7 linked regions of the Homo sapiens genome follow. Changing the gene in region 1 together with any one later gene gives a genetic interaction. Each region holds a gene or a part of one and is shown in the gene's direction. Other genes may lie near its edges. The genes, in order: GFI1B, YTHDC1, MTOR, ATP6AP1, CNOT1, GINS4 and DCTN2.

Evidence for each region.
Region 2: changes in GFI1B (region 1) and YTHDC1 together harm fitness more than expected from each alone (negative genetic interaction), as found in Homo sapiens cells (one large-scale study listed by BioGRID).
Region 3: changes in GFI1B (region 1) and MTOR together harm fitness more than expected from each alone (negative genetic interaction), as found in Homo sapiens cells (one large-scale study listed by BioGRID).
Region 4: changes in GFI1B (region 1) and ATP6AP1 together harm fitness more than expected from each alone (negative genetic interaction), as found in Homo sapiens cells (one large-scale study listed by BioGRID).
Region 5: changes in GFI1B (region 1) and CNOT1 together harm fitness less than expected from each alone (positive genetic interaction), as found in Homo sapiens cells (one large-scale study listed by BioGRID).
Region 6: changes in GFI1B (region 1) and GINS4 together harm fitness more than expected from each alone (negative genetic interaction), as found in Homo sapiens cells (one large-scale study listed by BioGRID).
Region 7: changes in GFI1B (region 1) and DCTN2 together harm fitness more than expected from each alone (negative genetic interaction), as found in Homo sapiens cells (one large-scale study listed by BioGRID).

Annotation. Positions count from the first base shown.
Region 1 is NC_000009.12:132,984,346-132,988,694, forward strand, and holds part of GFI1B (zinc finger protein Gfi-1b), read left to right. Parts: intron 1-2,313; 5' UTR 2,314-2,333; coding exon 2,334-2,433; intron 2,434-2,936; coding exon 2,937-3,074; intron 3,075-3,851; coding exon 3,852-4,123; intron 4,124-4,349. UniProt on the Homo sapiens protein: Essential proto-oncogenic transcriptional regulator necessary for development and differentiation of erythroid and megakaryocytic lineages.
Region 2 is NC_000004.12:68,315,335-68,319,683, reverse strand, and holds part of YTHDC1 (YTH domain-containing protein 1), read left to right. Parts: intron 1-821; coding exon 822-858; intron 859-930; coding exon of another isoform or gene 931-954; coding exon 955-994; intron 995-1,102; coding exon 1,103-1,165; intron 1,166-3,235; coding exon 3,236-3,370; intron 3,371-4,349. UniProt on the Homo sapiens protein: Regulator of alternative splicing that specifically recognizes and binds N6-methyladenosine (m6A)-containing RNAs.
Region 3 is NC_000001.11:11,251,969-11,256,317, reverse strand, and holds part of MTOR (serine/threonine-protein kinase mTOR), read left to right. Parts: intron 1-125; coding exon 126-326; intron 327-2,344; coding exon 2,345-2,479; intron 2,480-4,349. UniProt on the Homo sapiens protein: Serine/threonine protein kinase which is a central regulator of cellular metabolism, growth and survival in response to hormones, growth factors, nutrients, energy and stress signals.
Region 4 is NC_000023.11:154,431,677-154,434,529, forward strand, and holds part of ATP6AP1 (V-type proton ATPase subunit S1 precursor), read left to right. Parts: intron 1-153; coding exon 154-228; intron 229-589; coding exon 590-783; intron 784-1,254; coding exon 1,255-1,295; intron 1,296-1,958; coding exon 1,959-2,044; intron 2,045-2,531; coding exon 2,532-2,770; intron 2,771-2,853. UniProt on the Homo sapiens protein: Accessory subunit of the proton-transporting vacuolar (V)-ATPase protein pump, which is required for luminal acidification of secretory vesicles.
Region 5 is NC_000016.10:58,524,961-58,529,309, reverse strand, and holds part of CNOT1 (CCR4-NOT transcription complex subunit 1), read left to right. Parts: intron 1-661; coding exon 662-835; intron 836-1,204; exon of another isoform or gene 1,205-1,387; intron 1,388-3,171; coding exon 3,172-3,321; intron 3,322-3,950; coding exon 3,951-4,131; intron 4,132-4,349.
Region 6 is NC_000008.11:41,535,153-41,539,501, forward strand, and holds part of GINS4 (DNA replication complex GINS protein SLD5), read left to right. Parts: intron 1-1,207; coding exon 1,208-1,294; intron 1,295-1,918; exon of another isoform or gene 1,919-2,027; coding exon 2,028-2,141; exon of another isoform or gene 2,142-2,158; intron 2,159-4,349. UniProt on the Homo sapiens protein: Required for correct functioning of the GINS complex, a complex that plays an essential role in the initiation of DNA replication, and progression of DNA replication forks.
Region 7 is NC_000012.12:57,533,257-57,537,605, reverse strand, and holds part of DCTN2 (dynactin subunit 2), read left to right. Parts: intron 1-1,760; coding exon 1,761-1,857; intron 1,858-2,060; coding exon 2,061-2,122; intron 2,123-2,451; coding exon 2,452-2,550; intron 2,551-3,153; coding exon 3,154-3,314; intron 3,315-3,508; coding exon 3,509-3,653; intron 3,654-4,302; coding exon 4,303-4,349. UniProt on the Homo sapiens protein: Part of the dynactin complex that activates the molecular motor dynein for ultra-processive transport along microtubules. In the dynactin soulder domain, binds the ACTR1A filament and acts as a molecular ruler to determine the length.

The DNA of each region.
Region 1 (4,349 bases):
GAGGCAAGAGGAGGAAGACGTGTCCCTGGGAGATAAGGCCGTGGGCTGCCCCCGGCCCGAGCCTGTGTTCAGAGAGCCGAGAATCTGACCGCGGGAAGGGACCCCAGAGGCCTTCAAGGTCCTTTCTCCTAATTTTAGAGCTCAGAGAGTACAGGGCCTTGAGCGCGGCCCTGGCTTCTGGGAGGCTGCTGCAGCCCTTGGCACAGGGCTTACCCCGTCCTTTGAATGCACCTGCAGTGGGCTGGGTGCTGGGATGCGGGGGAGCACATGCTGAGCACCTCTCACACTCGCTCCTGATGGATAAAGGTCCTTTCTCGCTCCCCACCATCCCATGTGGTTGGATTGGGATCCCCGTTTAGCAGATATGAGCACTGAGGCTCAGTGATGAGCCTTACAGCAGGCAAGGGCTGGGCCTGAGCTTGGCCCCCTGTGCAGAGCCCCCAGTCCAAACTCTTGATGCCCCCAGGCTCTGGGCCAGGGGGAAGCAGGCCTGGGCATAGTCGGGTCCCTCTTCTGCCTGGCTGTGGTTCATCTCCTTGGGGAAGGGGTGAGTCCCTGGCCCTTTTCCAAGCTGCATTCTCTAATCTCCCACCTCCCACCCTGCTCCTGGGCCAAGGCCTTATCACCCAGGCCCTCACTGCTGTTCTGAAGCAGCTGTGATCCCTCTCCCGCCTTCTCCGGACCCTATCACCCCTGCAGCCTTGCATGGCGGCTGGCCCAAGGGGTGGGGGGGTGGGACTCCTCTGACGCCTCAGGCATGGGCCTGGTGTCGGCCTGGGTGCAGCGTGGGGGCAGAAAGGATAGAGGACCACCAGAAGATGCTCTCCAGAGTGCCCGGGGGAACCTCACAGGCTGAGTGCAGGGATGTGAACCATTCTGGGGGCCAGGCAGGGCTCTCAGCTCCAGAGGGCTCTGCAGGGGAAGCCAGGAGTCCTGGGGTGGTCAAGTTGGTCCAGCCCTGTCACTCCCTGACTCTGCCTGGGATGGTCCCTTGACTGATGTGGTCCTTGGTTTCTTCTCCCACTCCCTGACTGGTGGGGTTGGTAGTGATGCTGGGCTGCCCACGGAAGCTGGGGGCTGTTCGCCTCTTCTCCTGTGTCCATGAAGCCTCAGGCCTCCAGGTGCAGTGGAGTTGGGGGTCCTCTCAGGTCTTGAGTCCCCACACCCCACTCCTCAGAGAGAGAAAGCCCCTGTCTCTCTAGGGAACAGACTCTGGGCCAGGGCTGTGGACAAGGCGCAGCCGTGCTCTGGCGGCTGTGGCTTGCGGCTTGCAGGAGCACGTGGATTGGCAATGTCCCCTCGTTTGCTGCAGCTTCTCTGCCAGAGCCCCCAGTGATAGACACTGAACACCTGTGATGCACCTGTCAGCACTGCAAGCCTGGACATCCCCACTTACAGCAAAGGGGATAGGCCCAGAGAGGTTAAGTGTGTGTCCCAAATTGCACAGCAAGTGAACTGAGATTCTAACCCACGAACCACTGATTCCAAAACCTAAGCTCAGACCACCCGTTTCTATGGCCTCTGAAGGTGAATCTCACTGGTACCCAAATGTAGCTTTCTAGAATTGGGGTCCACTGTGTGTCACAGAGGGAGACCCCAGTCCCTGCCTTTCCTTTTCTGCTCCATTGCAGCCCAGGTCATGCCAATGGGAGCAGGCTTGTCTGAGCGTTTTCTAGGGGGCGATGCATTCATTTCCTGGTGAAGGAGCAGTGAGGGAAGTTAGGATTTGTAGCTGCCGTAACAAAATAGCACAAACAGGTGGCTTAAAACCAACAGAAATTTATTCTTTCATGGTTCTGGGATCTAGAAATCCAAAATCGAGGTGTCCGCAAAGTGGGTTCTTTCTGCAGACGCCAGGGGAGAGGGTTTCATGCCCCTCTCTGAGTTCTGGCGGCTGTCGGCACTGCCTGGCATTCTCTGGCTGATAGAAGCTCCGAGTTCTGGCGGCTGTCGGCACTGCCTGGCATTCTCTGGCTGATAGAAGTGTCACTCTCTGCTCTGTTGTCGGCACACGGCGTTCTCCCTGGGTGTCTGTGTCTCTGGGTCCAAATTTCCATCTTCTTATAAGGACACGAGTCATCTTGGATTGAGGGCCCATCCTAACCCGGAATGACCTCATCATAACTTGATTACATCTGCAAAAACACCCTATTGCTAATAAGGTCACATTCACAGGTTCTGGGTGGACATGAACTTTGGGGGCCACTGTTCAACCCAGTATAGCTGGTGTTTTATCTCAGGAGGAGGTTCTGAGATATGGAGGGGTATTGTTCTCTTGTCCTTCCTAACCGCTCCCATCCCTCCCCCTTGCAGGTGTGGGGTGCACACTGAAAATGCCACGCTCCTTCCTGGTGAAGAGCAAGAAGGCTCACACCTACCACCAGCCCCGTGTGCAGGAAGATGAACCGCTCTGGCCTCCTGCCCTTACCCCGGGTGAGTCAGAGCCCGGGCTGGCGCCTGCTGCACCCACGGGGGGCTCTCTGCTCTGCGTGATGAGGGTGCAGCAGCGTCCCTCCTGCAGCAGCCTCTTCTTCCAAGTCTGGAAACAGGAGTGCAGTAACTGTGGGTTGCAGATGAAAGGAGTAGACAAATGAGTGATGCCCTCATCCCTTCTGCCCTGTTAGGGAGACGAGAGTGTCAGGTTGGAGCCAGTACTTAGTTACTGGCATGTGGGGCCTCACTGGAGGCCCAGTCTAGGGCTGGAGTTGGGTTGCTCAGAAAAACAGACTGGTCCAAAGTCTTCCCCGGGGTCTCCTCCTGGCCTCTTCTTGCCGCCGCCTGCTCTGGGCAGAGCCCGGGAGTGTGAGCCGCCAGAAGCAGCGGCACGTGGCTGTCTCTCTGGGCCTCCTCCTCCTAGGAAGGGCGTGCCCTCCTTGCTCCCTCTGGGCTTCCCAGAAACCGTGGCTATTGATGCTGATGGTCCTATCTCCCCACAGTGCCCAGAGACCAGGCTCCAAGCAACAGCCCTGTCCTTAGCACTCTATTCCCAAACCAGTGCCTGGACTGGACCAACCTCAAACGAGAGCCGGAGCTGGAGCAGGACCAGAACTTGGCCAGGATGGCCCCGGCACCAGGTACCCCGCTGTGACCCACTGTCATTCCCCAGGGAGTGCCAAGGGGAGGAAGGATGAAGGGACTCTTGCAGCAGGGCCCCTTGGGGCCCTGGAGTCAGGAAGGACCCACGAAGTCACTGGATGCAGCCCGGGCTCTGTGGCTTCTGCTTGGGCCTCTCAGACAGGGAGCTAATTCCCGGATGTGGGCTAGGTGGGAGAAGAGGCCAGAAGCAGCAGCTGGGCCGGTCCGTGCAGGGAGTGAGGTGGGCACTGTGGAGTGAGGCTGGGGGTGTCTCTGGGCTGGAAAAGCTGAGGAGCCACAGTGAGGACCCAGACATTCCTGGCAGTAAGTATCTGGGTTGACACCCTGAAACCCTCCACATGAGGTGATGAAGGTAGTGGTGTGTGGTAGAGGGTGGTGGGAAGGGGGTGCCCTGTGTTTATTTTATTTCATTTTATTTTTTGAGACAGTGTCTCACTCTGTTGCCCAGGCTGGAGTGCAGTGGCACGATCTCAACTCACTGCAACCTCTGCCTCCCAGGTTCAAGCAATTCTCCTGCCTCAGCCTCCCTAGTAGCTGGGATTATAGGCGTGAGCCACCACGCCTGGCTAATTTTTGTATTTTTTGGTAGAGACAGAGTTTCACCACGTTGGTCCGCCTGGTCTTGAACTCCCGACCTCAAGTGACCCACTTGCCTCAGCCTCCCAAAGTGCTGGAATTGCAGGCATGAGCCACGCCACTGTGCCCAACCCCCTGTGTTTAAATGAGTAACCAGGCCTGTGTCGTTATCTCCACAGAGGGCCCCATTGTGCTGTCCCGACCCCAGGATGGGGACTCTCCACTGTCCGACTCACCCCCATTCTACAAGCCTAGCTTCTCCTGGGACACCTTGGCCACAACCTATGGCCACAGCTACCGGCAGGCCCCCTCCACCATGCAGTCAGCCTTCCTGGAGCACTCCGTCAGCCTGTACGGCAGTCCTCTTGTGCCCAGCACTGAGCCCGCCTTGGACTTCAGCCTCCGCTACTCCCCAGGCATGGATGCGTACCACTGTGTGAAGTGCAACAAGGTGGGCAGCGGGGGGTGTGGTGGGCACCTGGGCCCTCCTCTCCGCACTCCCTCTCAACTCACTGGCAGCTCTGGGCGTTCTCTGTGCTGTGAATGTTGGGGCTCTGGTGGGATTAAGGATTCAAAACGTTCATCCTCATCACCATTCATTGAGCTCTGACCACGTGCCTGGCCCTGTGCTAAGCAATTGACAGGCATGAGTGCCAGAGTCAGATGAAAGGTTAAGG
Region 2 (4,349 bases), on another chromosome or scaffold:
ATCTAAATGTAGCTTTTCAATTAATCTATCCCTTACTGAAATTTAAGAGAGCAAACTATATTCAAGAAGGGATATCATGTATTTGAAGAGAGTCAGTGATACACTTGTGAAACTTAGGCAGTTAGGAGATTGATGTTAGTGATCATTATAGCACTATTATGTAACAAGTGGCTTGATTAGCCTCATTCTTCCAAAATAGGTTGTCCTGTTGTAGAAAGTGAAAATAGTTTTTCCCCAGTAACATGACTACTCAAATGTTTTTACATTTTAATTTGTTGGGTTCTTATTAAAAGAAGCAGGGGAAAGAATATTTTTCTAACCACCATCGATTTTTCATTTTCAGTGTATACATCTTCATTTTTGCAACTTTTGCAATTTTTTCCCCCTCCCCCTTAAGTTTACATTTTAAAAAGCTTATCTGTGGTTTTCTTGGTAAGACCTACATATACCCAAGGTGGAAAGTAAACATTTGTTTTAAGGAAGTCCTGTCATAGTGTGCTCAAGATAGTTCCTCTGCCCTTACCTTCCCTGTGAAGCAGAAGGAAGAAATTTTCTGATTAGCAAGATTTGGAGTGTGAACATAGAAGATACCTATCTGAAAGCTTCTCTAGCAGTTTACAATTCTATGATATCATTAGTTATTTCCTAGATTATCATGTAATCTGAGAAGAAAATTTGAAAATGGGATAATACAGTAGTAGCATCACTTAAAGTACATATTTCATGGAAAGAATTGAAACGAGTGGTAAGGAAGGTTTAATTATAATGCCATAAAAGAAAAATATAAATTTGATTTACTAAAATGCTTGATGTTTGAACAGGGTATTTAAAGGATCCACGATACCAGGAAGTGGACAGGTAAGTCGGGTTCACTCTTGCCTAGTTTTGAATTACATTCTTGGAACTAGTTTATGAATTACCTGAATTTAGTTTCACAAATCTTATTCCCAACAGACGATTTTCAGGAGTTCGCCGAGATGTGTTTTTAAATGGGGTAAGCATTTCATTTTATCTATTTAATGTGGATAAAATCAGGCTCTGATTTATTTTGCAGTTCTGTGATAATTTTTAATTATATTGACATTATCATCTTTTATTTTAGTCCTACAATGATTATGTGAGGGAATTTCATAACATGGGACCACCACCACCTTGGCAAGGAATGGTTTGTATTATTCTATTTTTATAAGTTACATAACTTAATTTGCAGTTCTAGTATTTCAGGTGCTTACTCGGAATATGATTGTTACAGTTACTCATTAAAGAGACTTAAACTGGCCAGGCGCCGTGGCTCACACCTGCAGTCCCAGCACTTTGGGAGGCTGAGGCGGCTAGATCACCTGAGGTGAAGAGTTCGAGACCAGCCTGGCCAACACGGTGAAACTGAAACCTTGTCTCTACTAAAAATACAAAAAACATTAGCTGGGTGTGGTGGCGTGTGCCTGTACTCCCAGCTACTCGGGGAGGCTGAGGCAGGAGAATTGCTTCAACCCAGGAGGCAGAGGTTACAGTGAGCCGAGATTGCGCCACTGCACTCCAGCCTGGGCAACAGAGGGAGACTCCATCTCAAAAAGACTTAAAATACAGATTTTTGATGATAAATAATTGTATGCTGTCTTTCAAACTAAAGACTAAAAGCTCATTTGTGTTAATAGTACAGGCTTGAGAACTGTAATAGTGTATTATGGTAGTAATTAGTAGTGCAAAGTCCGCTTGGGTTCAGATATATTTCTTTTTCTTCCCAACTCTGTGACTTTGGGTTAATTTCTTAATACAACTCTTAGTTTTCCTCATCTGTAAAATTCCATGGGCATTCACTGATGCTTTGTCTTATCAAATATAATATTTAGTACTTACTCTGTGCAAGGCACTGTGCTTGTTCTGATTATATCATGGTGAATGAAATTGACATCATGACTGTCCTGGTATAGCTTAAAATTTAATGTAGTAGTGTCATTTTCATTGTCAAGATAAATTTACAAAGTACATGTTAAGTTTAGCATAGTGCCTGATCTAATACTCACTAAATTTTCTGTGTAAAATAAGATTAATTAAACCCTGATTATTCCTGCTTTTTAATTATTTCCTTTAAGAAAACTGAATTGTCTTAGAGTATATTTTAAGATATTGAAGATAGCTGAAGCATTAATTTTCAAGAAATAAAAACCTGGAAGTTGAAGTAGCTTCTACTGTTTTCTTACATTTTAATTTATGTCTTTTTTTAAATGCAATATGTTATATGGCCTCTTCATCTGACTTTTGTTTCACTTTTAAGGTATACAGTTTTATACTATTATATGCAGATGATTATGAGACTTTTCCCCTTTAGATTCTAGGAAATTTTAAAAATTTAATAATATATGATCTTGATAGTAACTATGAAAGTAATCTTTAATTTACCCTTTATTCATTTTTTAAATGGCATTTAAAAGTTAATTTGCTCCTGGACTTTTTTTTTGAGAGACAGGGTCTCATTCGGTCTCCCAGGCTGGAATGCAGTGGTGTGATGATAGCTCTGTGCAGCCTTGAACTCCTGGGCACAAGTGGTCCTGCTGCCTCAGCTTCCTGAGTAGGTGGGACTACAGGCACATGCCACTGTGCCTGGCTAATTTTTTTATAGAGACAAGGTCTCACTCTGTTACCCAAGCTGGTCTCCAACTCCTGGCTTAAGGGATTCTTTTCCCTCAGCCTCCCAAAGCACTGGGATATGGGCGTGAGCCACCACACCAGGCCTGTTGATGTTTCTAAGAACAGATACATACAAAGTGGTTAACCAGTTTACCAACTGCAGAACTAGGATGCCTGATGCCGTATGCCTGCTTCACCACTTTAACAGTAGTGTGACTATAAGCAGGTTACTTAACTCCTTGTTGCTTCAGTTTTCCCTTTTGTAAACTGGGAACAATAGTATCTATCTCATAAGGTTGCTGTGAGAATTAAATGAGACTAGTAAAGTGCTTAGAACAATGCCTGGCTCACAGTAAGCACCATGTAAGTGTTTGCTATTTCCATTGTTATTTATATGATAGGAGTAGAAAAGCATAAACATGTTAAATCTTAGAAGATGTGTAATTTTCGACAAAAAGCATATTTTGAAACACCTTAATGCCATCAAAGTAAATGTCTAGTACAGATTCACTTGTTTGGGATTGGTGTTTTGGATGAAGGGTTCTAAGAATCGCTTGTTTACAAGGGTGTTGGTAGATTCTTAATGTAAATGGTTTTCCTTTTTTAGCCCCCTTACCCAGGAATGGAACAACCTCCACACCATCCTTACTATCAGCACCATGCTCCACCTCCTCAAGCTCATCCCCCTTACTCAGGACATCATCCAGTACCACATGAAGCAAGATACAGAGATAAACGAGTAGTAAGTGCACAAGGAGGCAAAGGTGTGAGGGAACTACTTAGAATTCTGTAGGTAACTTAAATATGGGGAGACCAGAGTATGATGATTGACGGACCATTGCATATTCTTACTGCAGACTGTTTTGGAATAATTGTTTGTTTTTATTAAAAATGCCTGATTATGCCCCTTTGGATTATATAGATAGAATATATTTCTTTTACTGATCAAATCACAAACTGCTTAAGGCAAACGCCTACAAATAGAACTCCTTTTAGGTAGTACCTAGGCTATGTTCTTTCCATATTGAGATCTTAATTATGCTATGTAATTAATATTGTTAATAGATATTTCTGAACTTTTTGTGTATTCTTACTCAATTTTTCTAGGATAGATCGTGTATATTAAGTTAGCTGATAAGCTGTAATCTCATTTAGTCATTTGTTTTTATTTCTACCAAATGTTAAAGCTAGTAACTGATAAATTGTTTTACCTCTGGTTATTGTGATGTTAGCAAAGAATAACCAGATGTTATGATATGTAGCAGACATGTCCTTTATTCATTGATTCTGTTAATTATTTGATAAGATTGATGTGAAAGCTTTTTTTGATGGCTTCAAAACAGGACCAGTGAAAAAAAGACTCTAGTTTTAGTTTGAGTTTTCTGGGTTTTTAACTAGTGGGGCTGAGTTTATTAAATGCTTCCCCACCCCCCCCAATAGTACTTTTATTTATAAAGCAGAATTGTCTTCTGGCAAGTGTTGGAAGCATAATTCATATGCATATAAGTTTGATAGCCTTAGAAAGGTAGTTTTGTTGTTAAACTAAGTAGGATATGCAAGTTAGAATTTTTTTCCACTCCCTACTTAGGTTGATGAGTCTGTATGGGGCCAAATAAACATCTTTTTATTTTCCCACTTAAGATGAAGAGTGGGCCTATTTGTGAGAATCAGAGCAGCTTTCTAGCCTATCTTTGAGACATTTTTTTGTGTTGTCAGTAATT
Region 3 (4,349 bases), on another chromosome or scaffold:
GCTAGAAGAGTGAGCAAGCCTTCTCTGTTCCTGGTGTGTATGGCTCTAAGATGACAAGAGACTGTACTCCTGAGAGAACAAAACTCTGGTACCAATGAGAGTTCTCGGTTTGCTTTTTTCTCCAGGTCCTGGTTCTCCGTGAGCTGGCCATCAGCGTCCCTACCTTCTTCTTCCAGCAAGTGCAACCCTTCTTTGACAACATTTTTGTGGCCGTGTGGGACCCCAAACAGGCCATCCGTGAGGGAGCTGTAGCCGCCCTTCGTGCCTGTCTGATTCTCACAACCCAGCGTGAGCCGAAGGAGATGCAGAAGCCTCAGTGGTACAGGGTAAGGAGATGGCTCCATTCCCACCACTAGCAAAGCACATCTGCGTAGAGAATCACCTGGCCTAAAGGGCAGCCACAAGCCCTTGCCATGGAGCAAGAATCACGTTTTGGTTTGCTCTCAAATGAATTTTTTTTTTTTTTTTTTTGTGATGGAGTCTTGCTTTGTCGCCCAGGCTGGAGTGCAGTGGCGCAATCTCGGCTCACTGCAACCTCCGCCTCTTGGGTTCAAGCGATTTTCTCCCACCTTAGCCTCCCGAATAGCTAGGACTACAGGCGTGTGCCACCACGCCCAGCTAATTTTTGTAATAGAGACAGGGTTTTGCCATGTTGGCCAGGCTGGTCTCGAATTCCTGACCTCAGGTGATCCACCTGCCTTGGCCTCTCAAAGTGCTGGGATTACAGACATGAGCTACCGCGCCTGGCCTCCAATGAATTTTTTATGCTCAGTATGAATCAATAGTTACTTTATTGCATTTTATTAAAGCAAACATCTATTGATAGCCATACCATTATTCTATACATTATTTTATGTATGACTAAGAATGCAAATATGCCAATTAAACTGTGACTTGGTACCTCTTTCTTTTTTTTTTTTTTTTTTTTTTTTTTTGGAGATGGAGTCTTGTTCTGTCACCAAGCTGGAGTTTAGTGGTGTGATTTTGTCTCACTGTAGCCTCTGCCTCCTGGGTTCAAGTGATTCTCCTGCCTCAGCCTCCCGAGTAGCTGGGACTACAGGCATGTGCCATCACGCCCAGCCAATTTTTGTGTTTTTAGTAGAGACAGGGTTTCACCATATTGGCCAGGATGGTCTTGATCTCTTGACCTCATGATCCACCTGCCTTGACCTCCCAAAGTGCTGGGATTACAGGCATGAGCCACTGTGCCCGGCCAACTTTGTACCTTCTTCTTATTAATAATTAATTATAAGACATCTCAGCTGGATGCTCACGCCTGTAATCCCAACATTTTGGGAGGCCAAGGCAGGAGGATTGCTTGAGCTCAGGAGTTTGAGACCAGCCTGGGCAGCATGTGGGATCCCGTCTCTACAAAAAATAAAAAAATTAGCTGGGCCTGGTGTTACACGCCTGTGGTCCCAGCTATTTGGGAGGCTGAGGCGGGAGAATTGCTTGAGCCCAAGAGATCAAGGCTGCAGTGAGTCATGATCATGCCACTGCACTCCAGACTTGACAACAGAGTGAGACTCTGTCTCAAAAAAAAAAAAAAGACATCTCTTTTCAGAGATGTTAAAATACGGAAAAATAGGTGTCTCAAAATCAGTGAGATACAAATGATACTAATTTAGAAAGTGCCATTTCTCTCTGCTCTAGTATAATGAGGCCTGTGCTGATTACTGCTGCAGAGGGAACTTATCAGTGAGTCTTATATTAGAAAAAGAGCTCTGAACATGGGATTGGGAGATGCGGGTTCCAGTCTTGCCTTTGCTGTGTGATCTTGGACAAGTCACTTAAATTCTTTGAGCCTGTGTTTTTAGCTGTTAAATAGGGATGATGATGGTATCTTCCTCAAAGGCTTATTATGAGAATTGAAGCTGGGGCTGGGCGTGGTGGCTTACACCTGTAATCACAGCACTTTGGGAGGCTGAGATGGGTGGATCACTTGAGGTCAGGAGTTTGAGACCAGCCTGGTTAACATGGTGAAGCCCTGTCTCTACTAAAAATACAAAAATTAGCCAGGCGTGGTAGTGTGTGCCTGTAATCTCAGCTACTCAGGGGGCTGAGGCAGGAGAATCACTTGAACCCAGGAGGTGGAGGTTGTGGAGAGCCGAGATTGCGCCACTGCACTCCAGCCTGGGCAATAGAGCAAGACTCCATCTCAAAAAAAAAAAATTGAAGCTGAATTAAATAAAAGAGATTGATCAGTTAGTTTTGTTGATGACTGGCACTAGGCACTGAGCAGGCGTGGTAGCACCTCAGAACCCCCAGTGTAGATGGGATGGGCCTGTATTCTTTCTGGGTTTGTACTCTGTCTCTAATGAAGGCACCCTGTCTCTCTACATAGCACACATTTGAAGAAGCAGAGAAGGGATTTGATGAGACCTTGGCCAAAGAGAAGGGCATGAATCGGGATGATCGGATCCATGGAGCCTTGTTGATCCTTAACGAGCTGGTCCGAATCAGCAGCATGGAGGGAGAGGTGAGAAGCCACGGCAGAGGGGAGTCCAGGCTCCCCGTGTACCATTCTGTGAGCGAGGCAAGGCGAGATCCATGTCCTCATGGAGCTGACATTTTGTGGCAGGAAACATAATAAATAAGTAAATAAGATAATTTCAGATAGCAGCAAGTTCTATGAAGAAAGTCAAACCAGAATAGAATAGAGAGTGATGGGGAGGGGGTGAGTGGAGGGTCAAGGAAGGCCCTCCCTGAGGTGGTGTTATTTGACGGGGGTCCACATGACACGAAGGAGCTACCTTGCAGCAGGCCGGGGGACTGTGTTCCAGGCTGAGGCTTTGAGGTGGAAGAGTGTGAGACATTGATGAAACAGAAGAAAGGGAAGTATGGCTGGTGTACCGGGAGCAAGGGAGAGGGAAGGAGGGGCCAAATTAATAGGCCCACGGTTCACAGTAAACACGAGCTTTCACAGGGGTAAACATTGGAAGTATGCACACAGGCGAATAATGTGATGTCATGCGTTTCTAACAATCACTGACTGCTTATAGGAAAAAATGTGGGGAAAGGCAGGAATGAAAGCAGGGAGACCAATTAGGAGATGTGTTGGCTTGAGAAGGTGGATTTAAAAGTGCATGGATTTTATTAGGGAAACAGCCTTCAAGAGAATATGGGGAGGAAGCTGGGAGAAGCATCGGACCACAATGCACATCTGACCCTGAGTAAGCAAGAGGGTAAAATTCGGATAGAAGTGTTCTAGCCTACTCTGCAGGGCCACCGCGGGGTCCTCAAGCCAAAGTTGGCTGTCAGAGAGGTCTGTGTCTCCCAAGAGCAGGATAGCCTTAGCATCCCTACTGTGTTCTGTCATTGGCTGGGAGCAATGGGTGACGTTGGCACAAACTTAGTGATGGGTTTCAGAGCAGCAGCTGGGGCCCTTGGTTATGCGCCTTGTAGTTGGAGGTTGCATTCTCACGGCTGCCAGACGAAGCTATTACGGTAGTCTGGGTGAGTGACAGTGGTGGCTTTGACTAGGAGTGGTGGCACAGATACTGAGAAGTAGTTGATTCAGGATATATTTGGGAGGTAAAGCTCCATCTGTGAGACTGGCTGTAGAAAATGAGCTGTGAAATTTTACCCCGGGGATTCCTGCTTATAATAGACACAGTGCTTGTTAGATAATAGCCATGCCCAGATGTGGGAGCAGCGCATGCAGCAGTGTGCAGAAGCAGGAGGAGTCTGGCTTCAGATCCCCACCGCTCTGATGACTGTGCGACTCAGGCAAGTTACCTGTTTAGCCTCATTTTTCTCCCTTTGGACAGGGGCTCTTACCTACCTCATTGGGCTCTTGTGCGGTTTCTATATGATGTTGGCTCTCTATATCCATGAGTTCTACATCTGGATTCAACTAGTCATGGTTCACAAATACCCAGGGCTGGGTGCAGTGGCCCACACCTGCAATTTCAGCACTTTGGGAGGCTGAAGTGGGAAGATCACTTGATCCCAGGAGTTCGTGACCAGCCTGGGCAAAAGACGGTGAGACCGTGTCTCTACAAAAAAATTTTTTTAACTTTTTAAAAAGAAAAAAAAAATCAAGGAAAAAACAAACAATTTAAAGATAATACAAATTTTTAAAAATACAGTGCAACAAATATTTACATAGCATTTACTTTGTATAAGGTGTTATAACTAACATAGAGATGATTTAAAGTATGTGGGAAGCTATACATAGGTTATATGCAAATACTATGCTACTTTATCGGAGGGACTTGAGCATCTGCAGATTTTGGTATCGCAGTGGGTCATGGAACCAACCCCCATGGATACTAAGGGGATGACTATGTGTGTGAAGTGTCCAGCACAGCACCTAATACATAGTGGGCATTCTATAAATGGTAACC
Region 4 (2,853 bases), on another chromosome or scaffold:
CCCACCAACACACAGTTGTGCTCCACCATACTGAACCTGACTCTCAGTGAGACTTTGCTGGCCCTGAGAATGCACGGGGAAGGTGGCTGTCCCCTGCCTTGGCCCCCATCACTTGCCAAACCTCCTCAGATGTCTCCCCTATTTCCCTAATAGCTGAGCATTGAGGATTTCACAGCATATGGCGGTGTGTTTGGAAACAAGCAGGACAGCGCCTTTTCTAACCTAGAGGTGAGAGTCCTCTCCCAGCCAGGGGCCATGGGGGACATTCTGTGCTCCTTCTCCCAGCATAAGAACTGTACTCTGACCTCATATCAGGGTTACTTGGGTCTGAGTCTCTTCTGGGTCAACCATCCCCCCCAAAAACAACAACAACAACAAAAGCCACCTCATACTCTTAGGGAGCAGAGACGCTGGCTTTGGGGTAGAAAGGCCTGGGGCCTGAATGTCAGGGGCTGGGGTGTGGGCCATTTTCTTGGTGAGCCTTTATGGGTATGGCTTGCCAGAGGAGAGCTGCCAGAGAGGTGTGGGGGGCTGGGCCAGGCCCACTGGCCCCTGGCTAACTCACCTTTTGCCTCTCCCCTGTCCCCAGAATGCCCTGGACCTGGCCCCCTCCTCACTGGTGCTTCCTGCCGTCGACTGGTATGCAGTCAGCACTCTGACCACTTACCTGCAGGAGAAGCTCGGGGCCAGCCCCTTGCATGTGGACCTGGCCACCCTGCGGGAGCTGAAGCTCAATGCCAGCCTCCCTGCTCTGCTGCTCATTCGCCTGCCCTACACAGCCAGGTACTGCCCGCATGGCCCAGCCACCAGCCTCGGGGCCCAGAGAGCAGCAAGGCCCTGGGCTATGGCATGTGGTGGCACCGTTTGGCTAAAGATGCCAGTACTCCCCACCCCCTCACAGCCCTTCCAGAAGGTGCCCTGTGTGGCCAGAAGAGGAGGGGAGGGCCTCTTCTGTGACTCAGGAGTTGGTGCCTAGCACTGAGCTGGGCCTCCAGAGATGAGGCAGATGTGAGCCCTGCGGGTGGGGAGCCTTCTCACCTAGCCAGGCCCTTGTCACAGAGCAGGTGGCCAGGACTTGAGTGTGACTGAGAAGCCTCGGGGTGGGATGGGCTTCCAGGAGGGGGCACTGAGGTAAGAGTGTGCAGGCTTGGTGCGTGGGGCTAGTGGGGAGGAGAAGCTGGGGTCGGGGAAGGGTAGTGGGCAGTGCAGGTCCAGGCCGCCTGAGGACTCTGGCGCTCTGTTTGTCTTCCATAGCTCTGGTCTGATGGCACCCAGGGAAGTCCTCACAGGCAACGGTGAGTAGAATCAGGGAGGATGCACGTCCTCATCTAGCCCTTGGGTGGGGGCCACAGAGAGAGCTGGCCTGCAGTTCCTCGGCCTCCTCACTCCCAGGGTGGCCCGCCTGCTTCTCGGGGCAGCTGGCAGTGGAGCAGGGAAATGCTGGCTCCCAGGACCAGCCAGGGACCACCTGACAGAAGACCCTGTCCAGCCAGACCCCACTTGGCAGAGGGGGGCGGCTCTCTGTGCTGGAGGCTGTGGAGCCAGTTTCTGTGCAGGCAGCGTGAATCCTAGAGTTATGGGTTTAATAAGACTGCAGACATTTGGAAAAACAATTCTGGGGACTCATCTATTTGCAATAAAGGACAGTCACTCCCCATGGAAAGGCAGTCGTGAACCTTTCATGGGTGGATGTGGAGTTTTCTGTATTGATATGTATTTTCTTATGTCACATAGGTAGGGCTTGGCATTAGGGAATCGATGACTGAAGCCACAGTTGTCTCTGGGGGAGGCTGGGAATGGGGGTGGGATGAGAAGTAGCTGCTCCTAAGGATCCTCAGTGGAAAGTAAACACACCACTTTCAGATGGTCTAGAAGGTTTCTAAAGCAGACAGTGGGGAGTGTTTCTTTATGCAGGGTGCCTGGTGACCTGAGTCTCTGCTCTCCTTGTTGACCCTCAGATGAGGTCATCGGGCAGGTCCTGAGCACACTCAAGTCCGAAGATGTCCCATACACAGCGGCCCTCACAGCGGTCCGCCCTTCCAGGGTATGTGCCCTTCCAGCAGGGGCTCTGGGGCGTGCAGGGAGAGGCAGTGTGGTGAGTCTGCTTGGAGGTGGGGAGTGTATGCCACAGGTAGGCTGCCCAGGAGGCCCAGCATAGGGGAAGCATGAGGCACAGAACCCCTGTGGTGTGACTATTTGGAGTGGCTGACTCTGGGGGCAGGGCTAGGATGAGCACTCAAGTCCTGCCTCCCCATTCCAGGGGCAGCTTTCCATCTCGTCCTGTGAGGCTTGTGGGTGGCAGACTTGGACACTAAGTCTAAATGACCCTAAGTTTGAGGGACTAGGAATGTCATCAGGGTTTAGGGGGCATCAGGGAAGGCTTCCTGGAGGAAAGGTCTCCTCTGGCTGATGGGACTTTGAGATAGTGGACAGGGTGTCCTGTTGGGAGGGGAAGGAGGGCACGACAATTGGGTTCAAGTGTGACACTCTCCCAGGGCTGCTGAAAGAAGGCTGGTTGGGTGTTTCTGCAGGTGGCCCGTGATGTAGCCGTGGTGGCCGGAGGGCTAGGTCGCCAGCTGCTACAAAAACAGCCAGTATCACCTGTGATCCATCCTCCTGTGAGTTACAATGACACCGCTCCCCGGATCCTGTTCTGGGCCCAAAACTTCTCTGTGGCGTACAAGGACCAGTGGGAGGACCTGACTCCCCTCACCTTTGGGGTGCAGGAACTCAACCTGACTGGCTCCTTCTGGAATGACTCCTTTGCCAGGCAAGGGCACTAGGCTGGGGAGGACTGTGCCACCACAGGTGACCTTCCCATCACTGTGGGTCGCAGGTGGGGCAGGGAGCCAG
Region 5 (4,349 bases), on another chromosome or scaffold:
TTTATTGTAGTCAAAATTGCAGATTTTTAAACTTATATTAAAAGTTGCTTTTTGTGACTTGTGTAGGAAATCTTTGCGTGTCTCAGTGTGCTAAGGTGTTCTATTTCCACTGATCTGAATTGTCAGATTTATGAGCATAAAGTCGTTTAATGTTCTGAAACTATTTTTTATGACTGTAGGATCTGTAATGTCATTCCTGACATTAATAATTTTTGTGTTTTCTCTGTCAGCCTTGGTTAGGGTTTATCAATTTATTTTTTCTAATAACTAACTTGGGCCCTGATTTTCTCCCTTTTCAGTACTTTAAAAAATTTATTATATGCTTTTACTCTACTTTCTTTGGTTTTCATTAGTTCTTTTTTTTTTTTAGCTTCTGAAGATAGACGCTTACATCATTGTATTTTTATTTTTTGTCCAGTCTCCTCTTCTAGCATATTCATTTCAGCCTGTAAACTCTTGATGCCTAGTTTTTCATGATACCTAAATGGAAATATTTGATAAATCATCTGTGATAATGTTAATTAAAGCCTAAAACTTTTTAAGAAATGTTACTAAAGTATACTTCATTCTTTTGAGGGGGGTGGGGGGCTTAAGTTACAATAGGAAAATGTTACTCCATTTTCCTTAGTGTGGAAATATTTTTCTTGTTTTTTAAAAATAGGGCACTTTAAGAGTGCTGCTGGTTCTTTTGCATGATTTCCCAGAGTTCCTTTGTGATTACCATTATGGGTTCTGTGATGTGATCCCACCTAATTGTATCCAGTTAAGAAATTTGATCCTGAGTGCCTTTCCAAGAAACATGAGGCTCCCCGACCCATTCACTCCTAATCTAAAGGTAAGGTTCCAACTAGTTAAAGGAAAACTTATGTCTTAATATTTCAGTCCTTTCTCTGATAAGTAGACTGTTCAGCACTTTCCTACCCAACATAACACGCACACTATTAGTTAAGGGTACTCTTTAAAGGAAATAATGTTATTAAGCCTGATAGAAGGTATGATATTGTTGCTATTGCTGTTGCTGGTGAATATTGGTTCACAGCATTTTTCTAGTTGCTAGTTTTCATATTAATTTTGATATTAAATTTAGCTCTATTTACAGAACCACAGCTTAGGTGTTGGGGCAGTCATTTGCTGGGTGTGCCCCACATGGCAAAGAATTGCAGAACAAACAGACCTTTGTAATCTTTTTCTTTTTTTGAGGCAGAGTCTTACTCTGTGACCCAGGCTGGAGTGCAGTGGTGCAGTCTCGGCTTACTGCAACCTCCCCTTCGCTGGTTCAAGCTATTCTCCCGCCTCAGCCTCCCAAGTAGCTGGGATTACAGGCACTCGCCACCACACCTGGCTAATTATGTGTTTAGTGGAGATGGGGTTTCGCCATGTCAGCCAGGTTGGTTTTGAGCTCCTCACCTCAAGTAATCTGCCTGCTTCGGCCTCCCAAAGTGCTGGGATTACAGGTGTGAGCCACCACGCCCTGCCATAGTCTCCATATTTCACAGTTTTGTGTCTGTGCACTTGTGCAGTTGTTCCTTGGTCCCTTGCTATTCTTGGAGGATTGGTTCTAGGACCCACTGGGACACCAAATTTTAAGTATGCTTAAGTCCTGTATGTAAAGTGGCATATAACCTTTGCATATCCCCTTAAATGACATCTGTAGTGCTTATGATACCTAATGTAGTGTAATGCTATTATGGAAATAACTATTTTAAACTATATTAATAACTTTTTAAAATTTGTGTTTTTTATTGTTGTATTATTATTTATTTGTATTTATTTATTTATTTTTGAGACAGAGTCTCACTCTGTCACCCAGGCTGGAGTGCAGTGGCGCAATCTCAGCTCACTGCAACTTCCGCCTCCTGGGGTCCAGTGATTCTCCTGCCTCAGCCTCCCAAGTAGCTGGTACTACAGGTGCCCGCCACCATGCCTGGCTAATTTTTTTTTTTGTATTTTTAGTAGTGACGGGGTTTCACTAGTTGGCCAGGCTGGTCTCAAACTCCTGACCTCACGATCTGCCTGCCTTGGCCTCCCAAAATGCTGGGATTACAGGCATGAGCCACTGCACCCGGCCTTTATTGTTGTATTATTTTTTATTGACCCCATCATCTACCTCTACCTTCACCCCCCATATTTTCGATTTGAGGTTAATTAGATATGGAACCTAAGGGTATGGAGAACCCACTGTATTTTTTTGTAAGTTGTTGGAATAAAGGAGAGAGAGGACCACTTAAAATCTCACCACCCTGACATGGCTACTATAGTTTGTTTAAGAGACAGGGGTCTCGTTGTTTTGCCCAGGCTGAAGGGCAGTGACTATTCACAGGTGTGAACATAGTGCACTTCAGCCTCAGGCTCCTGTGCTCAAGCCGTCCTCCTGCCTCAGCCTCCAGAGTAGCTGTGACTAGAGGTGCACACCACTAGAAGTGCCCAGCTATAGTTTAGATGTAGTCTCTACTCTTTCTGACACATGCATTTTTTTTTTTTTTTTTTTTTTTGAGACGGAGTTTCGTTCTTGTTGCCCAGGCTGGAGCGCAATGGCGCGAGCTGTGGCTCACTGCAACCTCTGCCTCCTGGGTTCAGGCGATTCTCCTGCCTCAGACTCCCGAGCAGCTGGGATTACAGGCACCACACCCAGCTAATTTTATATTTTTAGTAGAGATGGGGTTTCTCCATGTTGGTCAGGGTGGTCTTGAACTCCCAACCTCAGGTGATCCGCCTACCTCGGCCTCCCAAAGTGCTGGGTTTACAGGCGTGAGCCACTGCGCCCGGCTTCAATTTTTTTTTTTTTTTTTTTTTTTTTTAAGGAGTAAGTGTGATGTCTGGTCTTGCTGGGGCTTCTTTTCAAAGACTCTTGGTGAGTGAGGAATCTTATTCCGGATTATTATTTTGAAACCGAAGTCCAAGAAAAATCAGTTAGTTGTGCAAATTAGACCTTTGCCCAAAAGGTATCTTGCCTCTGGGAAGGAAATACATTATAGAGTGGGAAATTTTTATCATTTTGAACCAAGATTCTTCTAAAGAAAGAAAGACTGATTAATAAAATGTGGCAGCTGTGCTCTTCAAGGCATTTATAGTGTATATAGTTTTAGAAAAACAGTCCCACCACTTAAGCATAGATGTAATTTACTAATAAAAATGATTCTGCTTGTGATTCTTGCATTTTATCTGTGGCAGGTGGACATGTTGAGTGAAATTAACATTGCTCCCCGGATTCTCACCAATTTCACTGGAGTAATGCCACCTCAGTTCAAAAAGGATTTGGATTCCTATCTTAAAACTCGATCACCAGTCACTTTCCTGTCTGATCTGCGCAGCAACCTACAGGTTAATTGGTTTGGCTTAAAACTCATCTACGTCTTCCATATAAAGCACTTTCTATGTATGGTCCTGTGTGTGGTCCATTTGGGAGTTAGTCTTTTATTGTCATTTCCATCAATTGGGTGAGGTTGATTAACTGGATTTACGTATTTTACTAGTTCATTTAATCAGTGATATTTTGCTACAGCTTTGGACAAGACAGCACTAGAAGAGTAGACCACAGACAGTCATTAGCTGTTGGTACTCCTAGGATTTTTCTGAATACCTGGATGCTGATTTACATTTCTCTATAGGATATTTTGGAAAGTTATATATTTACAGTCTGTATATGCCATGCAACTACAACTTTCTCTCCAAATCTTTAATTGGCACAGTGCATATTTTGATTTTATAAACTTTACTTTAGAGCTGTGCCTTGAGCTTCGGCTTCCTGAGGGAAATCACATTTCTCTTATTGATACAACCACCTTTGGAGCATCTGTGTGTTTGTTAAATAACCTCACAAATTCAAGCAAGTGAATCACAATAAATGTTTGGCCTTTCCATGAAGGTGTAAGAAGGGTTTAGAAATACTGGTGCTAGAATTGGTCCTCTGCAGGAGTAAGCATAAGGAGTTCTGTTTTGCTCATTTTAAGGTATCCAATGAACCTGGGAATCGCTACAACCTCCAGCTCATCAATGCACTGGTGCTCTATGTCGGGACTCAGGCCATTGCGCACATCCACAACAAGGGCAGCACACCTTCAATGAGCACCATCACTCACTCAGCACACATGGATATCTTCCAGAATTTGGCTGTGGACTTGGACACTGAGGGTGAGTGAAGCCTGCCAGTTTTCAGAGTAGAGTTCTCTGTGCTTTTTGCTACAATCTGATCACAAAAATGTAAAAATGCTTCAAGCCACAATAGTGAAGGAATGTTCTGTCAGTATATTTATTCACAGGTCTAGCTGATTATTTTATCTTTAATTGGACATTATCTGCTCAGTGCAGGAAATACAAAAAAGCATAAAGGAAAGAATTATCCAGAATCG
Region 6 (4,349 bases), on another chromosome or scaffold:
TACGGTGAAACCCTGTCTCTAATAAAAATACAAAAATTAGCTGGGCATAGTGGCACATGCCTGTAATTCCAGCTACTCGGAAGGCTGAGGCAGGAGAATCACTTGAACCCGAGAGGCAGAGGCTGCAGTGAGCTGGGATCATGCCTCTGCTTTCCAGCCTGGGCAACAGAGTGAGACTGTGCCTCAAAAATAAATAAAAATTATTCAATATTTAATAAAAATCAATCAAAAAGAAATGCTGCTCCTAATAAGCCCTCCAGAAAATATGATGTTTTCCCATGCATTATGCAGGTTTTTTTTGTTTGTTTGTTTCAGTCTGCAGGACTGTTACAGATGCTCAGGCTCTGCACAAATGCCTATGACTGTAGCCATACCCAGCATTTGGTAATGTGTCTTGACGGTGATCATGGGGAGAAGCAGACACTCAAGGACGTCAGAAAAAAATAAGTTGAGCCTGGTCAGCATATAATTCTGAGCTATGCTAAAACTACATTTCCTGTAATTGAAAGATAAGTGTAGCTTTCCTCAGTCACTTAGGGATATTTCAGTTCTCTAAGCCTTGGAAGTCTCTAAAATGAACCAAACAGCTGGGCCTGAGTCATAAATTAGAGCTTTAACCTCTGGCTCCAAAACTCCATAATAGATGAGCGCCTGTTTCTATTATGATCCTGTATACTTTGGGGCCATTAGTAAATTACTCAATCTGTATTTTTTCAATCAGATGAGGATAACTATATCCATTTTCTCTGAGATATGATGATGATGAATGAAAAATATTTGTGAAGTGCTCTGAGCTTCAGGAATGAAGAGCTGTGTGGATTGGTGGGTTATTGCTTTCTCTCTAAATAGACATGGGGTGGCGCTGCCTGGGGGAACAGTGTGCCCGGGCTGCCTGGCAAAGGCACTATTTGAACACCAGGTGGTGTCACTCTCAGCACCAAGCGTCACACTAACTGAAGTAAGCAAGGGTTTGTATGAGTGTCAGTTGAATAGAAGGTTGTGAACACAGCCTCCCAACTAAAACAAGACACGAGAAAGCAATCGCTAAACGTAGTTTGTCTTCAAAACACCTTCAATGTTTCCAGTTGGTGGGCAGACAGTTTTCTTGCCTGCGCCATCCCTGGTTTTCGTTGGACTTGGGCTGACTCACTGGGTTGTTTAGCTCTGTGGTGGGTGATGCTTGCTTTTTCTGGCATTTGTCTTTTAGGCCTGGATGAATGAAAAGTTTGCCCCTGAGCTGCTGGAGAGCAAGCCTGAGATTGTAGAATGTGTCATGGAACAGCTGGAGCACATGGTAAGAGTCGCTTGTCTTGGGTTGACAAAGGAGGAGAAAGGTAAAAGCATTTGGTCAGCACACTGAGAGCTTGTGGTCTGGTAGCAAATCTGTTTTGTTTGGCTCCACTCACAGTCCAGTTCTTTAAAACAACATTGAATTAGTTATCTATGTTTATCAATCTTGAGAGTGCCTGTAAATATCTGGATATTGGCTTCCCATGAAAAGTCTAAAATCCTGCATTTCTGCATGAGAACAGTTGACCAGAGCAGTCCCATGAGAGCTGTCCATCCATGTACTCCCTGCTCCCCACAGCCCCTGACTACCCACCCTTCTCTTGTAGCCTCCCCACCTGGCCCCTGCAAACATTTGAGTTTGTGGTCCCTGGCCTAGATGATCTGAGCATAAATCATTGTCAACTTCAGAGAAGCTGTAAAATGTGGATATTTCAGTTTCTCAGCTGGTGTTTTAATACTGCTTTTTAGACCCAATGGAAGTTTCGTCTGTGTGCTGTACTATCTCCCTTACAATCAGATTGGAGTTCTTTTGGAAGCCTCTGGCTGAACAGATTCTATTCAAATGGTCATTTTCTAAAAGTAAATGACTATTGTTTGTACTTTATACAATGATAAAATGAAAACTCACATGATATTTTTGTTTTCCTTGGACTGAAACATAGTCTGGGTCCTCAACGTTGCCGGTGATGATGGTTGAACATCATGTTTTTTATAAACCTTAATTTCTCATTTAATAGGAAGAAAATCTCAGGAGAGCCAAAAGGGAGGACCTGAAGGTCAGCATCCACCAAATGGAGATGGAGAGGATCCGCTACGTCCTCAGCAGCTACTTGCGGTGTCGCCTCATGAAGGTTTGACGTGGAGATACCTGGAGGGATTGAGACAGCACAGTCTGTAATGCAGACTGAATGTCCTGGGGAAAACTTGGGCTGGGGCCCAGGAGGGTCCAGGACCTGAAGATGCTGCTAAGAGCCCAATATCCATGTAGCTAAACTGTAAGGAGAGCGAGAGATTGCTCCACAGAAGCACAGAGGAACGTGTGTGGCCCACTGCGGGGACACCGCACACATTTTTAGTCTGTTCACCTGCCGAGTGAGTGGTTCCCCCTTGCGTTACAGCATGGCAGTGCTAAAGGGAGAGTTGTTGGCATTGGTCAATAGTGAATGCTGACTAGAGGAGAACTTGTTTCCAAAATTATTTTGTCTGTCAGATGGCCAACGTCAGTGTCAAATGAACCAGGATGACTTACATTCACCTACAGCTTTGTGGCTATCTAACTTACAAAAATGAAGTTGCAGGCCAGGCGTGGTGGCTCACACCTGTAATCCCAGCACTTTGGGAGGCTAGGCGGGTGGATCACCTGAGGTCAGGAGTTTGAGACCAGCCTGACCAACAAGGTGAAACCCCATTTCTACTAAAAATAAAAAAATTAGCCAGGCGTGGCGGCAGGCGCCTGTAGTCCCAGCTACTCAGGAGGCTGAGACAGGAGAATTGCTTGAACCCAGGAGGTGGAGGTTTCAGTGAGCCAAGATTGTACCACTGCACTCCAGCCTGGGCAACAGAGCGAGACTCCGCCTCAAAAAAAAAAAAAAAAGAAATTGCAAAACATTCCTAGTTTATAACTCTGAGAAATTCTTACTTCCTTGACATTTCATTTGGTTCTATGTGTCTCTTTAGTTATTACAAATAAGATAAATTATCTCTTCTACATGAGAATGCTTCAGCTATCTGAAGACTGCCCACAGTCTCCTCGAAGTCTTCTCTCAGGCATACATTTTAGCCATTCAAACCATTTACTCTCCTGGTCTCTTCTCTAAAAGGGTTCTTGTTTGTCTCTATCCTTCTTAAGTTACACTATCTTAAACTAAACACAGTATCCCAGTTGTAGTTTGACCAAGTTTGTGAAAAACAGAATGATCATTTCTCTTATTCTGGTTATTAAGCTGGTAGTAATGCCAACCACATCACATTAGCATATTTATCACATTAGCATATTGACAGGTACGCTGCCTGAGCTCATTCTTCACTCACGTGGACACTAACCCCTTTTAAGATGATAATTACCCCATCCAGTCACTGTCCTCTACTTGTATGGCTTAGGTTTTGGCTCCTTAAGTGTAGGGCTTGATACTTATCTCTCTTAAGCTTTATCTTATTAAATTGGGCCATTTCCCTTGTCTCTGGATGCTGATCTTGTCACCTAATGTATTAGCTGTCTCTTAATACTTTATGTCATCAACCCCCTTTTTTTATTTGTTTGGTTGTGTTTTTTTGTTTTTTTTGACAGAGTCTCACTCTGTTGCTCAGGCTGGAGTGCAGTGGCGCGATCTCAGCTCACTGCAACCTTCGCCCCCCAGGTTGACGTGATTCTGTTGCCTCAGCCTTCCAAGTAGCTGGGATTACATGCCCCTGCCACCAGGCCCAGCTGATTTTTAGAAGAGACAGGGTTTCACCATGTTGGCCAGGCTGATCTCGAACTCCTGACCTCAGGTGATCCACACCCACCTTGGCCTCCCAAAGTGCGGGGATTACAGGCATGAGCTACTGTGCCTGGCCCACATAAGGTTTTTGATGGCATGCTTACCAAAGCTGGTGATGACCAGTTACAGGCTCACGCCTATAATCCCAGCACTTTGGGAGGCCAAGGCAGGTGGATCACCTGAGGTCAGGAGTTTGAGACCAGCCTGGACAACATGGTGAAATCCTATCTCTACTAAAAATACAAAAATCATCTGGGTGTGGTGGTGGGTGCCTGTAATCCCAGCTACTTGGGAGGCTGAGGCCGGAGAATCACTTGAACCCGAGAGTTGGAGGTTGCAGTGAGCTGAGATCACACCACTGCATTCCAGCCTGGACAACACAATGAGACTCCATCTCAAAAAAAAAAAAAAAAAAAAAAAACCTTATGTGATTATTAATTGGACTGTGGCAAGGGTCTTTCACAAAAGACTTCCCTACAGTTTGACATCTACCCATTGAGTCAGCATTCTTTTTTCAGCCACTTAGGAGTCTCCCAATCCAAGCCGTCCCCTAGCCCCAGGTCCATAGCTTGCCTGCAA
Region 7 (4,349 bases), on another chromosome or scaffold:
CCACACTGATTCCTGCTCTAATAGCAGAGCAGAGATGAAGGAAGGAGCTTCCTTCTATCTGCTTTTCTTTCTCAATGATGTCCCACCATGTCCCCCTCACACCCTCTCCCCACATACCTACACACAGGCAGAGATTCTCAGTCCTGGCTGTAGGTTAGAATCACCTGGATATCTGGCCCTACCCCAGAATAATTCATTAGAATCTCTAGAAGTGGGCCCAGGCCTTTTTTTTTTTTTTTTTTTCTTTTCTCTCTCTCTCTTTTTCTTTTTTTGAGACAGGGTCTCACTCTGTTGCCCAGGCTGGAGTGCAGTGGCATGATCTCTGCTCACTGCATCCTCCACCTGCCAGGCTCAAGTGACCCTTCCACCTCAGCCTCCTGAGTAGCTGGGACCACAGGCACGTGCCACAATACCCAGCTATTTTATATTTTTTGTAGAGTTGGGGTTTCCCTATGTTGCCCAGGCTGGTCTTGAACTCCTGAGATCCACCCGCCTTGGCCGAACTTTGGGAGGCCGAGGCGGGTGGATCACTTGGAATTAGGATCCTCCCAAAGTGCTGGGACTACAGACAGGCTTGAGCCACCATTGCCCGGCTGTCTATTTAAAAAAAAAAAAAAATTATAAGTGATTCTAACATGCAGCCTGGGGTGAGAACCATTGTTCTAGGTGAAAGAAGGAAGGCTCATTTTGCCTTCCTCCCATAGAAGGTAGAGATGTCATCCCCAACAGAAAAGGACTCCTGGGTCTCCCTCCTACTTCCATCAGTACTCTGTTGGGAGCTGTCAGGCTTCTGACAATTGAAAAAGGGACATGCAGTCAGGAGTGCTTGGTGCAGTCTTGGTGTTGTCACTGGAATCTGAACAGCATGTAGATATCTAGTAAGGAGGGAACCTCTCTGCTTCAGTTTCTAGGGTGAAGTCTCTTTCACCGCCTACTTGTGTCCCCTGTTTTTGGAAGAGCTTCAGTGCTTAAAGCATAGCAGAGGAGTCAGGGAGAAAAATCAGGTGCTGCAGCGTCTCTGAAGAGATGCTGGTTTATCTCCATTTCAGAGCTTACATGTGGCTCTTGCCCATGGATACTCTTGGCAAGCAGATATTGCCTATGTTTGTTGCTTCTAAGATGTCCCATAAAGATAATCCAGTAAGCCCTTGCCCCTTCTCCCTGTCCCTGAGTTCGCTGGCCTCATGGCAGCCTGGAAATCAGGCTTCTGGTCAGGCCCTCTGTCGGCCTTCTTTTTGTACTAAGAGCTTGTGTCTTACCTTCAACAGGTTTAAAGTCCTAATATTCACACTCAGTGTTAGTGGCCTGATTATCTGCCTTCCCTCCTCTTTCCTTCTAGCAAGGATGGGAGGTTAGCATTAAAATGGACTTGCTCAGCGGGCAAGATTTACTTTTGGGAGGGGGAGGTTAAAAGAGGTCAGGTTGGTTTCTTGCCTTGAGTGCATGGCGTGTGCCAGACAACTGGGAGGGGTAGCATGGGGGGATGGGAAGGCTTATGTACAGAGAGGGTGGGGAGGTTATGCTCCCTCTGCTCCCAGTTGAATGAGGGTGTTAATATTTATACAACTGAGGCTCCAAATTTACCAGGAAGCTTCAGTTTCCTAGGTTAAGCCTGGGTAGGCGCCTTGGAATAGAGCCACCCTTCTTTCCCCTTGGACAAGTAGGGCCCAGTCACCTAATGGTTTGGGGATTTTGTGGGGTAGAGTAAGTTCTAGAGTGGGAATGAGTGTGTCCCTGGCCTAAACTACCTGTTCTTGCAGGAGGAGCTGACAAGCACAAGTGTGGAACACATCATTGTCAATCCTAATGCTGCCTATGACAAGTTCAAGGACAAGAGAGTGGGGACAAAGGGACTTGGTGAGACTGGGCTGGAAGCTGGGTGGGGGGAAGACTGGAGGATAAGCATGAGAAGTGGTTTCCTGTCCTAAAGTCTTAGTGAGTTGTGCTTGGGGGAAGGGGTCCCTCATGGAGATATTTTATGGAAGCCCTCACAGTCACCTGAGACCATGACTGCCTTGGGCCTAGATCAGGCCCTCAGTTCCATCTTCTTTTCTTGGCAGATTTCTCAGATCGTATTGGAAAAACCAAGAGGACAGGATATGAATCTGGAGAATATGAGATGGTTTGTTGTGTGTGTGTGTGTGTTGATGGGAATGGTGTAGTGACCCTATCTAGCAGACATGTAGTAGGGAGATCAAGGGATACAGGCGGGATTCTGTTCCTCCTCTGTTCCTGAGGAAGCAGCAGGATGCAGCCAGGGAAACTCTGCCCTACTGCTGTTTGTTCTGGAGAGCCTCCAGCCCTCTAGCTGTCCTCAGTTCTTTGGTACTAGGGTGTTGTGGATTCTCAATTGGATATGATACCTTTATGACTTAGGCCCAGGGTGTGGATGAATTCTTGAGGCTCCCTGTAATGAGACATATAACATTACCCTCTGTGCCTGCTCTCTAGCTTGGAGAGGGTCTGGGAGTGAAGGAGACACCCCAGCAAAAGTACCAGCGCCTACTGCATGAGGTCCAAGAGCTGACAACTGAAGTTGAAAAAATCAAGGTAACTACAAACTCTCTTCTCCCTTCTCTGCTGTGACTTACACAGTAGAGGAAGACCTCAAGCAAGAAGAGAAAGATTCCCTGCCTGGCTGGGTGCGGTGGCTCACGCCTATAATCCTACCACTTTGGGAGGCCGAGGCAGGCGGATCACCTGAGGTCAGGAGTTCAAGACCAGCCAGGCCAACATGATGAAACCCCATCTGTACTAAAAAAATACAAAAACTTAGCCAGGTGTGGTGGCGCATACCTGTAATCCCAGCTACTCGGGAGGCTAAGGCAGGAGAATTGCTTGAACTCGGAGGCGGAGGTTGCAGTGAGCCCAGATCATGCCACTGCACTCCAACCTGGGTGACAGAGCGAGACTCCATCTCAAAAAATGAAAGAAAGAAAGATTCCTTAAGCTCCTGGATAAAGGGGCTAAGGTTTCCAGAGTTTACAAATATGCATCCATCTGTATGCAGTGCTACATACAGGTGGGCAGTCTGTCATGCTGAAAACCATCCCAGTGACCTCCAGCTACAACTACCTTTAAAGGGCTTGACCTATTTTTTTGCTTCTTGATTCATTCTTGCCATCCCCCGATTTCTACCTTTTTTCATACTAGACGACAGTGAAGGAGTCAGCCACAGAGGAGAAGCTGACCCCTGTGTTGCTGGCTAAACAGCTGGCAGCCCTGAAGCAGCAGCTGGTTGCTTCCCACCTGGAGAAGCTGCTGGGACCAGATGCTGCAATCAACCTTACCGACCCCGATGGCGCCCTGGCTAAGTGGGTACCCTACTTTGTTGAAAAATCATTGCTGACTGGGGTTGTGGATGGACTCAGCCAGCTACTGACAGGGGTGCTAAGTGGCAGAGAAGTGGCTTAGATGTTTCTTAATGCTGATTATGAGGCAAAAGTGAGGGAGAGTGACTGGCCCTTCTCCTTCCAGTCATGATATTATTACTCGGTCTCCTAACTAGGCGCCTACTACTGCAGCTGGAAGCAACAAAGAACAGCAAAGGGGGATCAGGGGGAAAAACCACTGGGACCCCCCCAGATAGCAGCCTTGTCACTTATGAACTACATTCTCGGCCTGAGCAGGACAAGTTCTCTCAAGCTGCCAAAGTAAGTGTGGATACAGTGTTGGTTGGGAAGCCAAGGGGAGATGTGACCCTAGAGATTTTCCTGCCTCTCTCCAAGGAGAGGGTGCTGGGAAGGCTTCTGATTCCTCTGATTCCTCTTGATTGATTCCTCTTTTGATTCCTGATTCGTTGTTCTCTATGTTTCTTTCTTTTTTTTTTTTTTTTGAGACGGAGTCTTGCACTGTTTCCCAGGCTGGAGTGCAGTGGCGCAATCTTGGCTCACTGCAAGCTCCGCCTCCCGGGTTCACGCCATTCTCCTGCCTCAGCCTCCTGAGTAGCTGGGACTACAGGCACCTGCCACCACGCCCGGCTCATTTTTTGTATTTTTGGTAGAGATGGGGTTTCACCATGTTAGCCAGAATGGTCTCGATCTCCTGACCTCGTGATCCGCCCGCCTCGGCCTCCCAAAGCACTGGGATTACAGGCGTGAGCCACCGCGCCCGACCTCATTCTCTATGTTTCCCTCGCCCATCTACCTTTGGTTAGGATTTTAAGATTGTGGCTAGGTATGTATTCCAGGGAAAGGAATCCCTTGGGGTGGTGAGTGGCAGGCAGAGTAGAGCAGGATCGTATTCCTCCCATTGCAGCAGCAGGGAAGCAGATGGCAAATCTCACCTCCTTCCTCCCACTAGGTCGCAGAACTTGAAAAGCGCCTGACAGAGCTGGAGACAGCTGTACG